Linked DNA regions of Homo sapiens: regions 2, 3 and 4 are each linked to region 1. The links come from fine-mapping of genetic effects on gene expression. A gene starts in region 1. Each other region holds a variant in brackets. All regions are shown on one strand. Distances are from middle to middle. Region 1 holds the start of LINC01479 (long intergenic non-protein coding RNA 1479). Region 2 has its middle 41 kb from the start of LINC02384. Region 3 has its middle 93 kb from the start of LINC02421. Region 4 has its middle 29 kb from the start of LINC02442.

The links. PIP is the estimated chance that this variant, and not a neighbour inherited with it, causes the effect.
Region 2: its variant is the best candidate, but not a certain one, in a credible set for the expression of LINC01479 in prefrontal cortex (CommonMind, PIP 0.60).
Region 3: its variant is the best candidate, but not a certain one, in a credible set for the expression of LINC01479 in skeletal muscle (FUSION, PIP 0.62).
Region 4: its variant is the best candidate, but not a certain one, in a credible set for the expression of LINC01479 in blood mononuclear cells (TOPMed, PIP 0.78).

What each region holds. Positions count from the first base shown.
Region 1 is chr12:67,926,856-67,932,011 of GRCh38, reverse strand. It overlaps LINC01479 (long intergenic non-protein coding RNA 1479), which reads right to left and starts at 2,777. Exons shown (of 3, transcript NR_120456.1): 1 at 2,625-2,777.
Region 2 is chr12:68,490,375-68,495,530 of GRCh38, reverse strand. No RefSeq gene overlaps it. Among named protein-coding and RNA genes, the nearest start is that of LINC02384, 41 kb to the right of the region's middle. The variant G/A (reference allele first, on the strand shown) is at 2,648.
Region 3 is chr12:67,819,665-67,824,820 of GRCh38, reverse strand. No RefSeq gene overlaps it. Among named protein-coding and RNA genes, the nearest start is that of LINC02421, 93 kb to the right of the region's middle. The variant A/T (reference allele first, on the strand shown) is at 2,362.
Region 4 is chr12:67,615,958-67,621,113 of GRCh38, reverse strand. No RefSeq gene overlaps it. Among named protein-coding and RNA genes, the nearest start is that of LINC02442, 29 kb to the right of the region's middle. The variant T/G (reference allele first, on the strand shown) is at 2,709.

The sequences.
Region 1 (5,156 bases):
CACAGGATGCCTTCGCCAGCAAGACCAGGAAAGGACAGTGTTCAGGACCCAGCTCAAGCCAGCAGTGGAATATCTGTAGTGAGGAATGGAAGCTCACTGCCCCAACAAAAGTGATGCTGCCACTCAACTCAACCCAGATATTGAATTGTTTCAGTTGTCCAAAGTAACAGTATTCTTTGTGGGCCACTGTGACATGGTAAAACATTTTGTTCCTAGCAGATGGTATAAACTTAGTGAATGTTTGCTGAATTTACTCATTCACTTATTCATTCAAAAATACCTATGAAACTTCTATTTTAGGCCCGACACTATTTTAGAGTATAGAAATATAGTCATGAACTAGATAGGCAAGTCCTTGAAGTCATGGGTTTCTATTCTAGAAGGGGAGTCAGATACCTAAATAAACAAGCAGAATAATATTAGGTAGTGACAAGTGCTTATCATTAGACTTATCTAGAATGATGTTTTAAATACAGTGGTCAGGGGAGTGGTATTTGAGGCCTGAATCATAAAAATTAGCCACCTACCCTAGGATCCATACAAAGAGAACCTCAAGTGGATTCAATAACATGTAATGCTTGCTGATTTGTTCTATCCCTTAAGTAAATCTTATTCTAATATACTTCATTCAAAATAGTTGTTGAACATGTTCCATATTCCAAGTAATGTGTTAGGTGCTAGGGATATAAAAGCAAAGCCATAGCCCCTGCCTTCAAGGAACTGATATTCCAATATGGAGATCCAGAGGTGTGAACAATTACAATAAAAAGTGAGAACTGCCCTGATGATGGAGGCATGGTCAGTGGGAGATTTCTTGAAGAAGTACCTTTATTGTAATGAAGATAGCAAGACTATCTGTGTGTTGGGAAAAAAAATGTCCAGGGGTGTCTCATGTTTCTGCAAGCCTTGTCAACAAAGAGACTTTTATTTGGGACTGCCTTCCAAGAATATTTGTATGGTGAACTTCTTGGAGGTTAGAGGTAGCGTGCCTCTCTCAAGCAGAGAGATTTGTTTCTTAACTAGGATACTAAAAAAAAGGTTTCCTTCTAAGGAAAAAGTTGGGCAGGTTTCCTTATAGCCTCTTTAAAAGCTTGTAGTTTCCTAAGCTCGGGGTTTTTCACCTTTGGTGCAAACCGACTGCGTTTGCAGCATCTACCTTGGCCACCCCCTAATGCCCCATAGGATTTGGAGGACAAGAAGAACCTACATGAATATTGGAGCTGATGCTGCTTGCTGTGCCATGAGTGATAAAGTCCTCTGTGTCTGACTCAGGAATCTGTGTCTTCTGCAAGAATCCATGCAATTGTGGCGGCTCCCTTGTTAGCTTGGAAGCAGACAAAACTTCACACCCTTAATCATTCTTAACATGGTGACAATATTAAAATTATTTCAGGTTTATGAGCTTTATTTTTCTCAGTGGAAAACTTGGGATAAAAATTCTAACTTCACAAACTCATTGTAAGAGACAAATGGAAGGTCATAGGTGTAGCAGAGATGGTTAGCTATTCCCTAATATATGTTCTCTCTCTCTCTCCTCTAACATAGAAATTGTAGTGTGACAAAGGCTACCAGACTGACTAAAACATCTCCTAGCCTCGTTTGCAGCTAGCTGTGATCAAGCAATAAAGCTCTGTCAATGGGGTGTGAGCAGAAACACAACTTGCAGATGATGCTCTTGCAAGGAAGGAAAATTCTCTCCCCTTCACCTTCCCTCCTTCCCATTGCCTGGAATACAGACACAGTGGTAAGACATCTTGGAACATTTGGATGGGAAACACCCTACACATGGCAGAGCACTAAAACAAAAGGAACCTGGAGCCTCTGTCCTCTTGCTGTCACCATTCAAGTCCTGGACTGCAAATATACAGACTGTCACATCAGAAAAAACTTCCCGTCTTGTTAGAGCCACTCCTATTTGGCATGTTTATTGAAGAAATGAACTGGTATTCTAATGAATGGAGGAATGAGAAGATCCGAGTGAGGGATTAGAAAGATGCTATTGGTGATGGTAGAGAAAAGAAAATAGAGCCAGATAAATTAGGAGGGAGATCACCTAGCTGCCAAGTAATGGGTTATTTTTCAGAGGTTTTGAATGTTGGCAAATCTTTAAGTCTTACCTGGTCTGTGGACTCTTACAAGAAGTTTGAATTCCATAGTCAAATTAGGAACACACTGACTTAAACATAATTCTTTATTATAGGTAGTACAAGTGTTTTCAGCACTAAAAGATTTTATGCCTCTTAAAAGAGAGGGCTGAAAATAAAGTATTCCTCATACTTATCTGAAAATGAGACCTTTCATCTAAAACTAGTGTTCATGGCCACTAGAGGACACATGATCCAATGCCTATGGGATTTAAAGACGTCTCCCAGCCCTCTTAGAAATTTGTAACCTGCAGTAACACCCAAATAGTCAACAAAGCAATTCACAAAGGTATTTGTCAGATAGGATGAAATAGACATGTGTGCATGACACATACACACCCTTTTCCAAACCAGAGCCAAAAGTTGCAGATACACCAGAAACCATGCGGTATCAATTTTCCCCTCTAAAGAGTTCAGCTTTGTTTTTGTTCCAAGGTGTGAATGAATAGCACAAGGACTGAAAAGGATAACAGTTCCTACCTTGATTCCACTTGAAGATCTTCATGAAGAAAGTCCTTGCTGGAACCTGAGCAGACTGAATACTAATTTCTCTTAGCAAGACATTACACTGCATGGTGGATGGCCTTCTTGCTCAGGAAGTTCATGACAATCCAAGAGGCAAAATGAAAGGAGGCAGAACAGAGCATGTAAAGTCAGAATCTTGTGACTTTGGCCCTGAGAGTGTTTGATCTGGCAGGAACTATTTTCCATGAGTAACCGAGTCCTGTATAGCACTTATGGGATCAAATGGCAGTATAAATTGGATCAACAGTTAATGTCTTAATTCTCTCCATGACCAATGTGAGGAAAAGTAATTCTATTTAAATCCTTCATAGAAAAATACTTCATGCAGAATCCTGGGGGGAAAAGAATTAAAAATTGTGATCTCATGTCAAATATTCCTGCAGTTTTCTCAACAGTACAGTTAATCCTTTGGGCTGGCAAAAGCAGGTTTTCTTTCATTATTTTGGTCTGTATTGGCAACGAAGTTATTAGGTGCAAAAGAAACACACACAGAGATGTCACACCACACTTGACACTGTCACTGTGGTGACAAGGTTTTCTCCAGCTGTCAGTGTCAGAAGGATTTCATTCTGTTTGATGCCACACGGTTTTGTGGTGAGAAGTGGCAGGCAAGCCCTTTTATTCCTTGTAATGTCTTCATTAATAATAGCAGTCATCAATTACCAGAGAAAAGGAGTACAAAATAAATTGTAAACATTATAACCTGGGGTCTTTATGGAGGATCTTTTATATTGTTTCATGGAATTGGAGGTGAATTCAGCAATAGGATTTTTGAACTCTGGAAAGATAGGGGGAAGCTTCCATTTCTTATATGCATGTTGGTCACATAAGACATCAGTCTGTGTGCACAGTTTCCTCATTTTCTTCAATGGTCTGGGTCATTACTTACCCAACAATCTGAAAAAAAAGTACAAATTATGTGTCTAAGTCTATACAATGAGAAGGTGACTTCTTTTTAAGAGCCATGAGAACTTCTCAGAATAAGAATCTCTTTTACAAACCAGTGGAAATCTATCAATCTTAGTTTGGGGGATACCAGGTAAGGTTTCTTCTTTGTAGGGTTTCTGGAGCTTTTAATGAGATGATGCATTCTGTGAAGCTTTAAGGGAAAAAGAAAATATACAGTTTCCTGAGTTTGTTTCATCACAGAAACATTTGTTATGGGCCTAGATAGTTCCATGAAACCTCTATTTTGGAAAGGCTAAAGGAATTAGTTAATCCATTAGCTTTTATATCTAATAAGCACATACTGTGCCTACAAAGAAACAAAAGTTTTCAAGAAACGCCCTCTTAACCTGGCAGTCGGACCAAAGTCCACATTCTTGGTGAGGAAGTTAGGCCTAACAATGTTTTAGCAGAGATATAATTTGATCCTTGGGACTATTTAAGAATACAGCAGTAAAAGTTGCTTACTTTGAGCTGTGGCAGAGATGGGCTGCAGGATTTGTGCAATTCTCATCTCACTGGTTGGAATTCTCTTCTCTCCTATTTGAGAAAATACAGTGTGAAAAAGTCACGTTCCTGCAAGGGTAGAACTCACAGTCTCTAAAATATGACCTAGTGATTCAAAAAGATTGGTACTTTGCTGTTTGACAACATTTTTCAGTGAACCATCACACTTTAAAATAGCCCTGTATAGAGCCCTGACTCCAAGGATCCTGAAAGTATCCCAGAGAGGCTTTTACCATTGGTGGGTGTGTGTGTGCAGGCGTGCATGTGCAAATTCACCCACATGTACAGGCTCTGGATTAGAGGCCGGGAGGAGAATCCAGAGAAGGAAAAACAGACCACACCTCCCCGAAGTCTTCAAAGCTGGTAAGAATTCCCAAGACAGCAGTTCTTTTGAAGCTCCCCACATGCCGTTTTATGGGTTTTTGGTTTTCAAATTAACATAGACTATGAACACCAGGATTTAGCCTCATGGATTTTTGCCCTATGCTATAGAGAAGTCTTCACTTGGCATCTTGGTTTACTGCCTGTGGGAAAATATGACAGGCAATTATAATGTCCTTTTAGTTATAAGCTGAAGTAGGAGTAATATTTTAAAAATATATAAAGCAAATATAGAGGCAGCTTAGCATAGCAGTTAAGAATAGAGATTCTAGAACCATTTTGCCTGAGTTTGAACCCAAATTCTGTGCCCTTGGGCAAATCATTTAAATGTGCTATGCCTCAGCTTCCTTGTCAGTAAAATGGGTCTGATTACAGAACCCCCCGCAGACTGTCATAGGGTTACGTGAGTTCATATCTGGAAAGCTCTTAGAATAGTGCCTGATACTTAATAAATGTTTATTACATTTTAAAATATTTTTAAATATGGTTTTCAGCCAGGCACGGTGGCTCATGCCTGTTATCCCAGCACTTTGGGAGGCCAAGGTGGGTGGATCACCTGAGGTCAGGAGTTCAAGACAAGCCTGGCCAACATGGCAAAACCCCATCTCAACCAAAAATACAAAAATTAGCTGGGTGTTGTGGTGCACACCTGTA
Region 2 (5,156 bases), 560 kb before region 1:
ACAAAATAGGAAATACTTCATTCTGCAAATTACCTTGCCAGAGCTTCTCTGCTATGATCTCATACATAACAGTGATATCTATATAGAAAAGGATAATTGAGGAATTACCTGGTGAATTCAAACAACAGCGTCAGTCACAAGTGATAATTCAGATAGTATTTTGTTTTGTTATCTTTTATTGTTAAATTTTTTTATTGTTATTATTTTTTAAGAAACAGAGTCTTACTCTGTCGCCCAGGCTGGAATGCAGTGGCCTAATCATAGGTCACTTGCAGCCTCGAATTCCTGGACTCAAATGATACTCCTACCTTAGCCTCCTGGGTAGCTGGGACTACAGGCATGTGCCACTATGCCTGGTTAATTTTCTTTTTCTTTCTTTTTTTTTTTTTCCCCCTTGTTAATTAAAAAAATTTTTTTTGTAGAGTTGAGTTCTGGCTGTGTTGCCTAGGCTGGTGGAAAACTGCTGCCCTCAAGTGATCCTTCTGCCTTGGCCTCCCAAAGTGTTGGAATTACAGTGAGCCACTGTGCTTGGCCTGTTTTGTTACCTTTTTAGAGCAAGATTATCTGTCTAAAGAATTAAAAAATTACCTATACTTATTTCAATGTATTTTGTCTGAAGTATTTCTGGGAGATGCATTGAACAGGCCACATTGGGATGAAGTGTGTTTGTTAGAATAGTAAGATCTGGCACATGGCTGGTCATGTCAGGTTTTTGCTGGATTATAACTGCTTGAGGACACAAACTGTATCTTATTTATCTTTGAATCCCTCTGGTGTCTTGAATGTAGTAGGCATTCTCTAAATAGTTATCAAGTTGATTGAAATTCATTTTGTTACGAAAATAATTTCTGGGCCTCCTAGGAATCAGACAGTGTTTGAAAAATATATCCCTCAATGCTCATTATTACATTTGGTTTAGTTTCTCGTGGGGACCCATATATGTTATTGAAACATAAAATATATCTGTAATAGGAAAATATGGATGTGACAAGAAAAGTAGCAGCAAAAATTGGGCAGCAACCTTTGGTAAATATGAGTAAAATCGATGCAGACCTGCTGACCTAACAGAATTCTTACAGATTTAGAGTTTTTGGAAACTGTTTCCACGGTTCTTGTACATTATACAGTTTGTCTTACTTTTCTCTTTTGACAGTTTTATTATTAAGTAAGCCAGAAAATGAGATGAGGAGATGCTTATCTCTCTCTCTCTCTCTCTCTCTCTGTGTGTGTGTGTGTGTGTGTGTGTGTGTGTGTGTGTGTGTGTGTAAACAAGAAGCCAATACAATTTCATCTCAATAAGATGAGCCCTGCTTAGGAGGATAATGACCATTAATTGAGAGACTAATATGTACCAGGCAGTCTTTAAATACATTAACATAGTTAATGCATACAACAACCCTATGAGGTACCTGTTATTTCCATTTTTAAAGTTTATAAGCTGATGTTCAGAGATGTTTAATAATTTTCTCAAGCTCACATAGTTAGTGGCTGAGCTGGGATTCACACCCAAAACTCTTTGACTAGTGAATCAGTTTTCTTCCCCTGTATTGTGCTTGACACAGAGGAGGCACCCACGCACGCTTATTCTTAGCAGTGTCAAAACATCTTTTTTTTGGGGGCACCATTTGTCTGTAATTATTACCTGTAGAATCTTTCTTTGAGCCTTAAAGCCAGATTAAGGCTTTGCTTATGTACAGCAGTAAAATAGTCCAATCTTAGCTTCCAGTACTGGCGATATTTTCTGGAAAGTCGGTAACTGGACAAAAGTGAGTCACTTTGAATAAAAGAAAAAAAGTGAAATAGGGTGTTTAAATAAATAAATAATAAAAAGTGAAATAACATTTTCATGTGTTTGCTTCTACTCAGAATTCAAATTGCTCAATTCGTTGCATTAGGAAAAGACAAAGGATTAAACACCCTCATATAGTTTTTGAGACAAAGTCTGGCTGTGTCGCTCAGGCTGGAGTGCAGTGGTGCAATCACAGCTCACTGCAACCTCTGTCTCCCAGGTCAAGCCATCCTCCCACCTCAGCCTTCTGACAACTGGGACTGCAAGTGTGCACCACCATGCCCATGTCTGGCGAATTTTTGTATTTTTAGTAGAGATGGGGTTTTGCTATGTTGCCCAGGCTGGCCTCAAATTCCTGACCTCAAGTGATCCGCCCTCTTTGGCCTCCCAAAGTGCTGGGATCACAGGTGTGAGCCACCGCACCTGGCCTCACTTTTTAAACTATTGAATTAGTATCCTAGAGTTTTTACTTTCAGGCAGTAATAAAGACACCCTATGGAAGAGCTGCAGGTGGAAGAGGTTGAGAAGGATTCTGTGTTTCATGAGTTGATATAGGGGTCAAGGTAGTATTTTGTCTGGGGAGGAGAATGGCGATATAAGAGAAGCATGAGCTAGTTTCTAGTCAATCTTCTTTCCTATGCACACAGGATAATTACAAAGTTAAAATTAAAAGACAATTTACCTATCTGACTTTTTTGTTTCAGTGATGTCACACTCAGAAGCAGTTAAAATAGCAGATAAGGAAACCCCTGGGTCTGTTGAGATCTAAACAACCTGTTTCTTTGTTGTACTATGTACCAGGTAAGGTGGTAAACAAAAGAAGCACAGTTCCAAACCTCATGGAGCTTATATAGTCAA[G/A]GCATGGAAAGGCAATATTTTCATATAATAGTATGTAAGAACTTTCAAAGAGACATTGCAGTCAAAAAAGATTCAACTCCAAGGGTGAAAACTTGCCTCCAAAAGGCTCCTGGAGCCAGGCTACGGCTGGAAGTGTTCAGAGGGACTGTGGGAAGACAAGATAATTGAAGGAAAAATAAGGGCTCCAACTAGTTTAAGGTATTGACATCAGCAGGAGATTGCACCGCACCTAACTGGGGTTACTGGTGTTATTAAGCAATACAGACTGCCTGGGCATTAAAAACTGACTGGAGTGGGTACCATAGTGGTTTAATGCAAACTACCTTCATTGGTAACTTGAGGTAGGTATATCTGAACTCTAGCAGCTGATCACATCCACTTTCTGTGAAAAGGCTTTCATAATACTTTTTAAAAAATTATTTATTTATTTAGGTACCAGTAACAGCACATAAAATTAATCATTTTAAAGTGAATATTTTGGTGGCATTGAGTGCATTCACAATGCTGTGCAACCGTCACCTCCAGTTCCATGACATATTCATCACTCCAGAAGGGAACCCTATAGGTGTTAAGTAGTTGTTTCCCATCCCCCTTTCCGCCTGTGCCTCATATCTACAAATCTGTGTTCTGCCTCTGTGGATTTACTTTTGCTGCATACTTAATATAAATGGCATCATACAATAGGTAACCTTTTGTGTCTCACTTTTTTCACTTAGCATAATGCTTCTGAGGTTCGTCCATGTTGTAGCATGTATCAGTACTTCATTCCCTTTTATGGATGAATAATATTCCATTATATGTATACACCACCTCTTGTTTATTCATCCACTGGCAGACATTTGAACTGTATCTCCCTTTTAGTTATTGTGAACAGTGCTGCTGTGTACATGGGTATACAATACATGTACTTGTTTGAACACCTGTTTTTTAATTCTTTTGGCACTATACCTAGGAGGGAAATTGCTAAGTCATATGGTAATTCTACGTTTAATGTTTTGAGGAACACCAAACTACTTTCTCCAGTGGCCAAATGACTTTACCTTCCAACAGTATATTAGAGTTTCAATTTCTCCATATCCTCCCCAACACTTGTTTTTTGCATTTTTTGATAGCCATCCTCGTGGGTGCGAAGTGGCACTTCATTGTGGTTTCGATTTACATTTCCCAAGTGACTAATGGTGAGCATCTTCCCATGCTTGTTGGCCATTTGTGCATCTTCTTTGGAAACATATCTATTCAAGTCCTTGGGCCATTTAAAAAATCATGTTGTTTGTGGTTTTTTTTGTTGCTGAGTTGTCATAATAATTTGTGAGCCATGTAGTTTAACTATGTTATGTTCAAATCCAACACCCAGAGCTGTCTTAGCGATGGGCTTGTTGGGAGGTGTGGGCAGGGAGAAGGAACATAGGAGAGGTGGAATTTCGTGTGTGGGTGAAAGGGGGTAACGTCAAGATTCACCTTCCCTCATAACTCAGAAGAGGAAGTGCTAACTCTGGCATGGCACTTTGATGGATTTGCCTTCCTAGAATCTGTGATCTCAACTTCATTCTCACCGTCAATGTCTGGCTTAGTAGTAAAGATCTACCATTTTTGAGTGCACTGCACACAAATTATCCTACTTAAGCTTCATAGTCATGCTGGTTGGTGCTATTATTTTAATTTTGCAGATTACAAAAATTGAAGCTTGGGGAGATTATGTAACTGGTCCAAAATCACAACTAGGGCAGGGTGCGGTGGCTCATGTCTGTAATCCTAGCACTTTGGGAGGTTGAGGCTGGCAGATCACTTGAGGTCAGAAGTTCAAGACCAGCCTGGCCAACTTGGTGAAACCCCGTCTCTACTAAAATACAAAAAATTAGCTGGGCGTGGTTGTGCATGCCTGTAGTCCCAGCTACTCGGGAGGCTGAGGCAGGAGAATCACTTGAACCCGGGAGGTGGAGGTTGCAGTGAGCTGAGATCAGACCACTGCACTCCAGCCTGGGGGACAGAGCAAGACTCTGTCTCAAAAAAAAAAAAAAAAAAAAAATCACAACAAGATGGAGGTTGAATGAGTAGAATTCCTTTCTCCCAGATCCATGCCCTTTCTCTGTTGCTCCATGGATGGCTCGCCACTTGTTTGTCTCATTACTGCAGCCTCCTAACCTTTCTCCCTTTCTTCAGTACCACCTTCTTCAGTCAGTCCTCTGCACTGCTGACATTGGCATTCTTTCTTAAACATAAATCTTATCATGCTACATCTCTGCTTGAAGTCTCTTAATGACTTGTCATCCTTCAAGATCCACTGTTTTCTCTTTCAAGTTACCATCTTTTGCTTCCCTCATTTGTGCCCTACTTTACAGTCCTGTCAAACTACTCCCAGTTTCTTGAATCTGTCAAGCTGCTTCATAACCTCATGCTCAAACATAGAGTTCCCTCTGCCTGGAATGTATTAAAGGTCCCTCCTCACCCACAGTACATTATGAATCTTTCCCCCATGCCATAAAATGCACAAATATTGGCAAATGAGGTA
Region 3 (5,156 bases), 110 kb after region 1:
AAAGGATTTTGAAGGCTATTTATCTACCCTTCCATTTTAAAGATGAGGACACTGAGATAAAGATTGCCTTGGCATACAGCTCAGTAGCTATGGGACTCAGGCTGGGCTTAATTCCTTCTTTACTACACTACTCTGTTACAACTCTGCAAAAAATAAAGATAATGGACTCATTGACCAAGCCAGAGTTTGTATCAGCTAGGGAAATTAGAATATTTTGCTGTAATTCACTGGTGGATCCTTTGATCTATGAAAATCCTATCATGTTTTACTTGACTACTGTTCAACTTTGGTATGTAATATGTTATAACCATGTATTGTTTTGTTAATTGAATGTGGGGAAAATTAGTTTAATTATTGAATGAACCATTGTGCCCTGTGGCCCCATGAAACCTCAGCTAACCCATGCATCTGCTTTTCTTCCCCTAACTATAATTCATTTGTATAGCCAATGATGGGACTTGGCTCCACAGCCCTCAAAACTTGGGGTTTTCCCATTGTGTATTTATTTTATTTTTGGGGCCCTCAGATATTTCAAATCATTAACATCATCCTTCAGAGACTGAGAATTGATTATTACAGAACATTAATAACATATTAAGGTCTCAGGCTTCACTTTCTCCTAGGGTTGTAAAAGGCTACTGTTTAATTACAATGAGTTTCATCCTCAAAAAAATGTCCCCTTGTGATAGATATCTACAACAGCCTCAGAACGCGCATTGTCTCGTGTTTAAATATATCCCCCCAAAGCATGCCATTCTCTTATCCAAGAGTTCTAAGAAATATTTCATAGCATCTCAATGGCACTGATTTGGTCACAAGTCTGCCTCTAAACAAATCACTACAGACAGGGAAATATGAGACCTTGTGTGGCCACACATGACTTAGATACCATCCCTAGGCCAGGGTTGATGACAGCTACACTGTGTGTGTATATATATATATACACACATATATTTGTATATACATTTGTATATACATTTGTATATGTGTATATATGTATATACAAATATATGTATATATGTATACATATATGTATATATATACACAAATACTATTATACACTATTATATATATTATATATACACTATATATTATATATACACTCTATATTATATATAATATGCTATATATATTTTTAATATATATATATAAAATAGATTTCCTGGTGTATAGTGTGTGTATATATAGTGAGAGTGGCAAGTGGTGGATCCCCATTGAACAACTGGGAATTGGGAATGAATTAGATTTTGATAAGCCAAAAACTAATGAATATCCACTATTCTAGGGAAGGTCACTGAGCCTTGAGTTGTCAGGATGACAAGACTAGAAATCTTTAGTTAGGAAAGATGAAGGCTGAGAGAGCACCTAATGGAAGTCTTTAAAACTGTACACAATTTTGTATGAATGAAAGTCAAATCCTTAGATATTAAAATGAGAATACCACCTTTAAAATTCTGAAAGGTATTTTAGCAGTGAGAATTGCTATTTCATGTAAAAAGCAATATTTTTGTAGAATTCTCTACCATCAAGAGGCTATACCTCTAAAAAATATAATTAATTCAAAAGATTCAGGAGAAATAAAGCCTAAATTAATAATGAAGAAAAGGAATAAAACACCTAAAATGCATGTTTAAGTTCAGAACATCCAAGACTCTCATGACCCCCTCTGAAAACAAAGTTAAATGACCCTCTTGAGCAATCCATGTACTCTCCTGGATAGTCCCCCAACCTCATTAACCTAGTTCAACTCAGCAAGCATGATGGAAACATTTTTACATGCAGTTTTAAATCCCTGAAAGAGTTTTAGGGATTAAGCAAAGCAGAGACATGCAACCAGTCTATAAAGAAAAAGCGCTTTCTATTGTATCATTTCTACAGCCAACAGACAGAAGAAAATGCAGCTGTAATCTGCATAAGAGAATCAAGAGGGTAACACAAACATGTTTTAAAATTCAAGGATCCAAAAACAAATCAAATAATTGTGTATTAGAGCTAAACAATTATATTCAGATTTTTTATTTTCTATTTTTAAAATTTTTCCAATTTATAACTGATAGTTAATATAATTGTTCTTCAATTATATTACCATTTACATTAGAAGACATAAAATATTATAGAATATTCATAGCCTTATAACTGACTATTGGATAAGTAAAGAACTTCAGCTTCCTTTTCATGTGGCTCTCCTGAAATGAAGGTCTGATAAAGTTTCTGATTCATTCATTGTAATTTATTTCATCAAAAAAGCTAGAAATCCTTAAGAATGTAAATGCGTCCTTTGAGCAGGCTTTCATTCTCCTTTATTTTTTCTTGGGGTATTGTGCTTTCCTGGTAATTGGGCCACTGAGGAATGATGAAAAG[A/T]ATGATCTATTTCAACATTTGTGGCTCATTATAGGCACTGAGGGACAAAGTTGAAATAAAAGGTCATAATGAGATTGAATTGTTCTTCAAGCTTGTCATAGATAGGAATAGAGGCATACCTTGGGAAAAAAAATTGTATAGAAATAGAACTTTTTAAGTTACGCAAAATGCATTGAGAATGTGCATTTAAGGCAAATAAATGTTTTCAGGGATATCAAGTGTGGTTCCAAACTGTGGAAGGTAATTTGAAATAAAATCCTTTTTAAAAAATGTAGACATTACATTTGTAGAAATTTGGGATCCATGAACCCAGGATCCTTCTTTTTCTTAATGGATGTGGCGTCAGTGTGGGAGAAGGTGCTTGATTTTTTTTTTCTGTGCTCATTAACAGTGATCAAACGTATAACAACATGAGTAAAGCCATACACATACTTGCTCATTCATTAAACAGCTATTCATTGGGCTCATTCTGTGTGCTGGAAATACAGCATTGGGTGATATAAAGTCTTTGCCAAGTGGGGAGTCTAGTAGGAAGACAGAAATTAAATTTAAAATATTAAATTAGGATTGTAATAAGTGACACAAAGGATAAGCAAGAGTGTGATTGAAATGTCCAACTAGGATACCAAACGGGTGAAAGGAGTGACACTGGATTGCATCTTGAAGGGAGAGTGAAATTGATGGGTGGGGCGAGTGAGGGGCAGGACTAACGGCAGGAAGGGACAGCAGTGATATTCTAAGCAGAGGGAACTATGTTGCTGAAGGTCCTAGGTGGAGTGGGATTGAGGAATGGAAGTGGAGAGGGAAGCAGAGGCAGAACACTACTCCTTGAAGCATAATAATCTGAAGCTTTATAAACCAAGAACAACGCACATTAGTGGGAGAGCTTTTAAAATGCATGCCACTGCATTTCATTTTGAAAGTTATCCTTTTCCACAGTTAGAGGAATCAACTGGAGAGGTATAATCACAGGTACATGGAGACTATTTGGGTGCTCATTGCTATGGTCCGAAACCAGATGGTGGTGGCTTGGCCCACTAGGGATGGCAAAGTTAATGGACAGCAATAGAAGGATTTGGAAGATATTTAGGAGGCAGAGTCAAGAATACAATGGATAGAGTGAGGTAGAGTGAGGTGAAAGTGACCCCCATGTTTCTAGACAGGATGGATAGAGGGGAGGGGATCCCCAACATAGGGCACATCAAAAGCAAAGGATGTCTTTTAAAGACTGAATTCTGGAAATGTTGTTAGTCTCATATCCAAGCAGAGATAAGGAGTTGACATGTGGGTCTGGAATACAGAGGAAAAGTCTAAACTAGATAGATTTGCAAGTTTATTTAACAAACTGACTTGGAAACACTCACTTTTACCAGTCACTGTCTAAGCACTTTATCAATACTAAATCATTTAATCTTCCTAACAACCCTCTGAGGCAAGTACAGTTGTTAGACTTACTTACCTACAAGAAAGCTGAGGCCCAGAATTCTTAAAATCACCCGGGTAGGAGTACAGAGCCAGGATTCAAACCCGGAGAGTCTGGCTCCAGAGTCCACATGCTGAACCGCTAGGCTTCTAGACAGTACGCAGGAATCGAATGGGTGTGGGCGAGTAAGAGAGATGTAGAATAACAGGAGGAGAGAACAGAGGCTTGAGGAGGTCAAACTTTTAAATCAGCAGAGGAGAGTAAATTGGTAAAGTGGCCATATCACTTCCACAAATCCATAAGACCCATTTGTCCCAAAATGTTTGTCCGGCAAGGCCTCACCCTTTCAAGGCAGCTGAGCCCACTGAGGAGTCGCATGATCATTCATCTCTATTAGTCTGGACACCCTCACAACCAGACACAAAGTCTCAGAGATTTATCCTGTTTGAAAAGCCGGGACAGATCTACCACACCGCTTTCCAGGTTCTGAACAACTGTTTCTCCAAGGCTAACTCTTTTGCCAATAACTTGACTTGTATTATTTTTAGTGAAATATCATGTAACAAGCTGCTCCTAAAATATTTCCAGCTCAGAGTGCTGGAAGAAAAAGATCAAAAAAGAAGAAGGCTGGAAGCTGAGAGTGACAGTGGAAAAAGAAAAGGAATAATGGAAAAGGAAGGCAAAACAAAACAAAATAAAAACAAAAATTGTTGAAAGAAAATATGATCTTTTAAATTGAGAAGGGTGAAAAGTTATTAACACGTCCCAGTCAATTTTAATTTCAAGGAATGCACACCCAGCCATGCCTGCAACTTTTCTAATTAAGCAGTTACCCAGTTCATTTTCAGTGATGTTCGTTTGCTCTCACTCATTGTGGACTTTCACAGTAACCCCTGGCATCAGAAAGCAGTGTGGTGTAATGATTACAGGTACAGGCTCTGGAATCAGTGCCATGTGTGTGTGAGTCCTGACTGCATTATGTGTTAATTGTGTGATTTCAGGAAGTTACTTATCTACTCTGTCTGTTTCCTCAACTGTAAAATGTGGATGATGATATCTATTAATAAATTCTACTTCATATTGTTCATATGAAGAAGAAATATTTGAAATAGTATTTGACTTAGTATAATATATACCACTCAAAAAATTTTTGTTAAACTTCTTTTTTTTTTTTTTTTTTCTGAGATGGAGTCTCGCTCTGTGGCCCAGGCTGGAGTACAGCGGTGCAATCTCGGCTCACTGCAATCTTCACCTCCCGGGTTCAAGAGATTCTCCCACCTCAACCTCCCAAGTAGCTGGGATTACAGGCGCTCGCCACCACACCTGGCTAATTTTTGTATTCGTAGTAGAGACTGGGTTTCACCATGTTGGC
Region 4 (5,156 bases), 310 kb after region 1:
TAAGGAATCCTTCAGGGCGCACATAGAGGTTATTATGTCATATATACGACACTTGAGTTGGGAATTTGAATCCCTTAGCTCATCCTTTTCTTTCACCACTTTGTCCAGTAACGTAAGAAGCAACCAAACAATGCTATTATACTCATTAATTTTTAAAAAAATATTTGAAAATCTCATATACAGAGTCATCTATCTTCTTATTTCTTATAAATGGTGGATCAGGAGTATTCAATGCAGATATTTTCTATCTCTATAACTAGTTTATGCAATGGAGTATCAGTGCTCTCTTTAGAATTGGAAATAGTCATTAACGTCATTAATGTAATGGTATTAGAAAGCCAATTCCAGAAACCTCAGAACCAAATCAGAAAACTCATCCTTAAAATTCTGTTCCTCTAGAGCCACTTTTCATCTTTAGGGTTTATTAGTTTGTATTATTCTCCAGAGAAACAGAACCAATAGGAGATATATATATATATATATGTATATATAAAGAGAGAGAGAGAGAGAAGGAGAGATTTATAAAGGGATGTATTATATATATAAAACACACACACATATACACACAACACACACACACACATATATGTGTATATATAGAGAGAGAGAGAGAAAAAGAGAGAGAGAGATGTATTATGACGGATTGGTTCATGTGACAGGCAAGCCGGTGGTGTAGTTTCAGTTCAAACCCAAAGATCTGAGACCCAGGGGGGCCAATGATATAAGCTCTCGTTGAAGTCTGATGGCTCAAGAACAAGGATTGTTGATGTCCAGGGGTAGGAGAAAATGAAAGCCCTAGCTCAAGCAGAAAGAACAAATTTGCCCTTCCTCCTCCTTTTTTATTCTATCTGGGCCCTGAACAGATTTGATGATGCCGACCCACATTACAGAGGATGGATATTCTTTACTTCTTTCCTCTTTATTTCTATTGATTCAAGTGCTAATCTCTTTCAGAAACTCCCCTACAGACACAAGCAGAAATAAGCTCTACCAGCTTTCTGGGCATTCCTTAACCCAGTCAAATTGATGCAAATTGACTATTACAGACACCCTCCTTTTTTTTTTTTTTTTTTTTTTTTTTTTTGAGACAGACTCTCACTCTTGTTGCCCAGGCTAGAGTGCAATGGCATGATCTCGGCTCACTGCAACCTCCACCTCCTGGGTTCAAGCGATTCTCCTGCCTCAGCCTCCCAAGTAGCTGGGACTACAGGCACCCACCACCATGCCTGGCTAATTTTTGTATTTTTAGTAGAGACAGGGTTTCACCATGTTGGCCAGGCCAGTCTCGAACTCCTGACCTCAGGTGATCTGCCCGCCTCAGCCTCCCAAAGTGCTGGGATTAGAGGCATGAGTCACCATGCCAGGCCTACAGACACTCTCTTACATGCTGCTAGTATATAGTCATTGAAGACAGAGATTATGTTTTCTCCCTCTTATATCCCTGCTGTCTAACACATTGCTGATACATAGCCCATGACTAATAAATGTCTATTTAATGAACAAATAAACAATATTGTCTATATTATCACAAAGGTGATATAAGACTAAATTAGCTTACATGCTTTTTCTAGATAGCCATTCAAATACCATCTACAGCATACTTGCCATCTGTATTTTTTCTTCAGAATTTTTTTTTTTTAGATAGAGTTTTGTTCTTGTTGCCCAGGCTGGAATGCAATGGTGCGATCTTGGCTCACCACAACCTCTGCCTCCCGGGTTGAAGCAATTCTCTCCTGTCTCAGCCTTCCAAGTAGCTGGGATTACAGTTGCCCACCACCATGCCTGGCTAATTTTTGTATTTTCAGCAGAGACGGGGTTTCACCATGTTGGCCAGGCTGGTCTCGAACTCCTGGCCTCAGGTGATCTGCCTGCCTCAGCCTCCCAAAGTGTTGGGATTACAGGCATGAGCCAAGGTGCCCAGCCCCTTAAAGACATTTTTAACTAATTTCACAAATACTTCTTGAATATCTACTATTTGCCAGGCACTGTTTTAAGCTGCTGAGACACATGTTGGTAAACAACAATCAAAACATTCCTGCCCTACTGTAACTTGCATTCTAAAAAGGTAACTGATAATAAACATAATAAATAAGTCTTTCCATATGATTGGTGATCATTGTTATGGGGAGAAAAGCAAAGCAAGGTAAGGGGGCTCAGAATTGACAGTCTGATATTGTGATAAAATAAGAAATATATGTTTGGTCTCTGCCCCTGGTTTCTGGCACAGAGCTTCTAAAACTTTTATAATTTCCTGAGCAATCGGGATGCTAGAAGAATCTTTTGTTCTAATATTTGGTCATTGGTCACATTCCTGACAGAATCTTAATCTCTTGGAATTTCCTGGGTGATAGGAGTGTCTTTTGTTCTAACGAGGTAACTTTTGATGGGCTCTTGGATGGGGACTCTTCACCAGAAAGACCAAGCCTTGATCAGAAACTTGGAACTTTCAGTACTTCCTTTATCCTTTGGGAAGGGGAGAGAGCCTGGAGATTCAGGTAATAATCAATTACACCTTCATAAAAATCCCTGAACTCTGAGCTTCAGGGAGCTTCTGTGTTGTTGAATGTGTAGAGGTGTGAGGAAGATGGCATGACTGGAGAGGAACTGAAAGTTTCGTGCCCCTTCCCACATACTTCACCTCATGTGCCTCTTCCTCTGGTTATTCGTCTGTACCCCTAGTAATATCCTTTATAATAAATGGGTAAACA[T/G]AAGCAAAGTGTTTCCCTCATTTCTGGGCTCACACACAAAAAAATGTGCTGTTCTAGCAAATTATTGAACCCCACAGGGGATTGTGGGAACCTCCGATATGTAGCTAGTTGGTCAGAAGTATAGAACAGAACCTGAGACTTGGGATTGGTATCTGAAGTGGAGGGCAGTTTCATGGGACAAGCTCTTAACCTGTGGGGTCTGCAGTAACTCCAGTTAGTGTCAGAATTGAATTAAATTATAGGACACCCAGTTGGTGTCTGCTGGTGAATCGCTTGGCGTGGGGGAAAATCCCACACATCTCAGTGATCAGAAGTGATCTGTGTTGAGAGGATAGCAGGAGAAAATAGTCATTTGTTTCTTCCTTACTGTTCTTGTAAAAGAGGGTATAGGTTGCAATTTGAAATAAAAGAGTCAGCTAGGCCTCACTGAGAGGGTGACATTTCAGTAAGTATTTGAAGGAGTAAGCAGGTTTGCCCTGCGAGTGTCTTGGGGAAGAACACCCAGGCAGAAAGAACAGCTAATATAAAGGCCAGATAGTTTACTTATTCCAAGAATGCCACAGAGGCCAGGGTGGCTGGAGCAGAGAGAATGAAGGGGATAGAGAAGGTGAAGGCAGGGAGGAAATGGCAGAGATGAGCACGCTGGGGAAAGGCTGTGTAGGGCCTAATTTCTATTCCAAGTAAAACAGTGAGCCGGTACAGCATCCTGGGCAGAGAAGTAGCATGATTTGGCTTACATTTTGAATAGATAGGCCTATTTGGGGAACAAGCTCTATTTTAGTAAATAAGAAGATGATCTTTTTAAATTGGTAGTTTCCTTGTTCATATCCCCTGAATACTTTCTCGTGCAGCCAATTCTGTGCCAAATGAAAAGTCTCATCCTGTATGTATGTCTGAATCTTATCTAGGATTTCTCAGCCAACTTATCTTGGCACACAGGAACATTATGACCTGTGGCTAGGAATTTCTCAAAATTCACAGCCAAGCTGATATTTAGGATACTGTCCTAAGATGGAATAAAGAAAAAAATGTAACTTAAATTCTGATTTTAAATATTACTTTAAATGAGTTCTTATAACAAGGGACACAAGATTCAGGATGTGATATAAGAATTTATAATTATAGCTATATAATGGTCCTACAAAATGTTACTGCCTCTTTGAATCAAATGTTCTATGTGGACCTTTGGAATAATAACAACATTCAAGAGATCATCACTTCTGGATTCTTGTCAATTTTTACCGAATCAAAAGGCAATGAGTAAATTTATTAGAATTGGTCATAGAAATGTTTTGACACCAGCCAGAAGGGAAAGTCACATAGGGGCTATTTCAAAAGCAAACTGCAGAAAACATTTTATATAAGAAGACCATAAATGGCTAATAAATCTGATAAAAACGTTTTAGCTGCCCTAGTAACCAAAGAAATTTAAAGTAGTAATGAGATACTTAAAGTGAATTTAAAAGAGGAGAAAAAACAAGGAAAAGGAAAAATAGAAGAATATTAGAATATTTGGGTGAAAATATAGGCATTTAGTGAGACACGGTCTTGAACTGCTTGGGAGTGGGAATAGGGAAATTCTCACATTGCTGATATTTTCAGTGGATCAGAAAAGCAATGTGACAGTACAGACTATAAACATAAAAAAGGATCGCATATTCCTGTACTTTTTACTCCTGGAAAAGTTTCTTTAGAAAATAGTGGAAAAAAAAAGTTGAATTGCAGCATTATTTTAAATACAGAAAAAGTATATACCTTGCAAAAGAAGGAAGGTTAAACAAAATATTTTAAATCCATATTGAGAAATGTTATATAACATTAAACATTCTATGAAAAAATTAATGATGTGGGGAAAATACTTACAACATAATGAGACATTTGATGCAAACAAGGTTCAGACACATGGTCTCGGTCATGTACAAATAATATGTGATAGAAATGAAAACTAAGTGGAAATATATAATTGGGAACAGCGATTATCTTTGAATGGTGAGGTCCTACAGGGGTTTATTTTTTATTACATTTTTATACATAGCATTTATAATAAATATGTCTAATATTTCTAATGTTTTTCTATTTTAATAAAAATTATGTATTTTAATATATAAATCTATGTAATATTTTCTGTATGTAAACTTTCAACATTATTTTTAAATAAAAAAGAAATATATTCAGAGTATAGCTAAGCAGTTGAAAAATAGCGAAATCTTTCGACCTAGCCAATGGTATAAAATAAATATAGGGATACACTATAGACCAAATACCTTAATTAAAGACAATAACCAATTTTCTAGATGCCAAACCAATGCCATCAGTTTGCTGTTAATCTGCATAAAATAAGTTAGTAACAGTCTATTTGCTGCTAACTATAGAATATTTTAACATTTACCAAATTATTAATGAGACTGGCTTTATAGTGACCCTTAAGATGGACTAGATCTTAAAAGC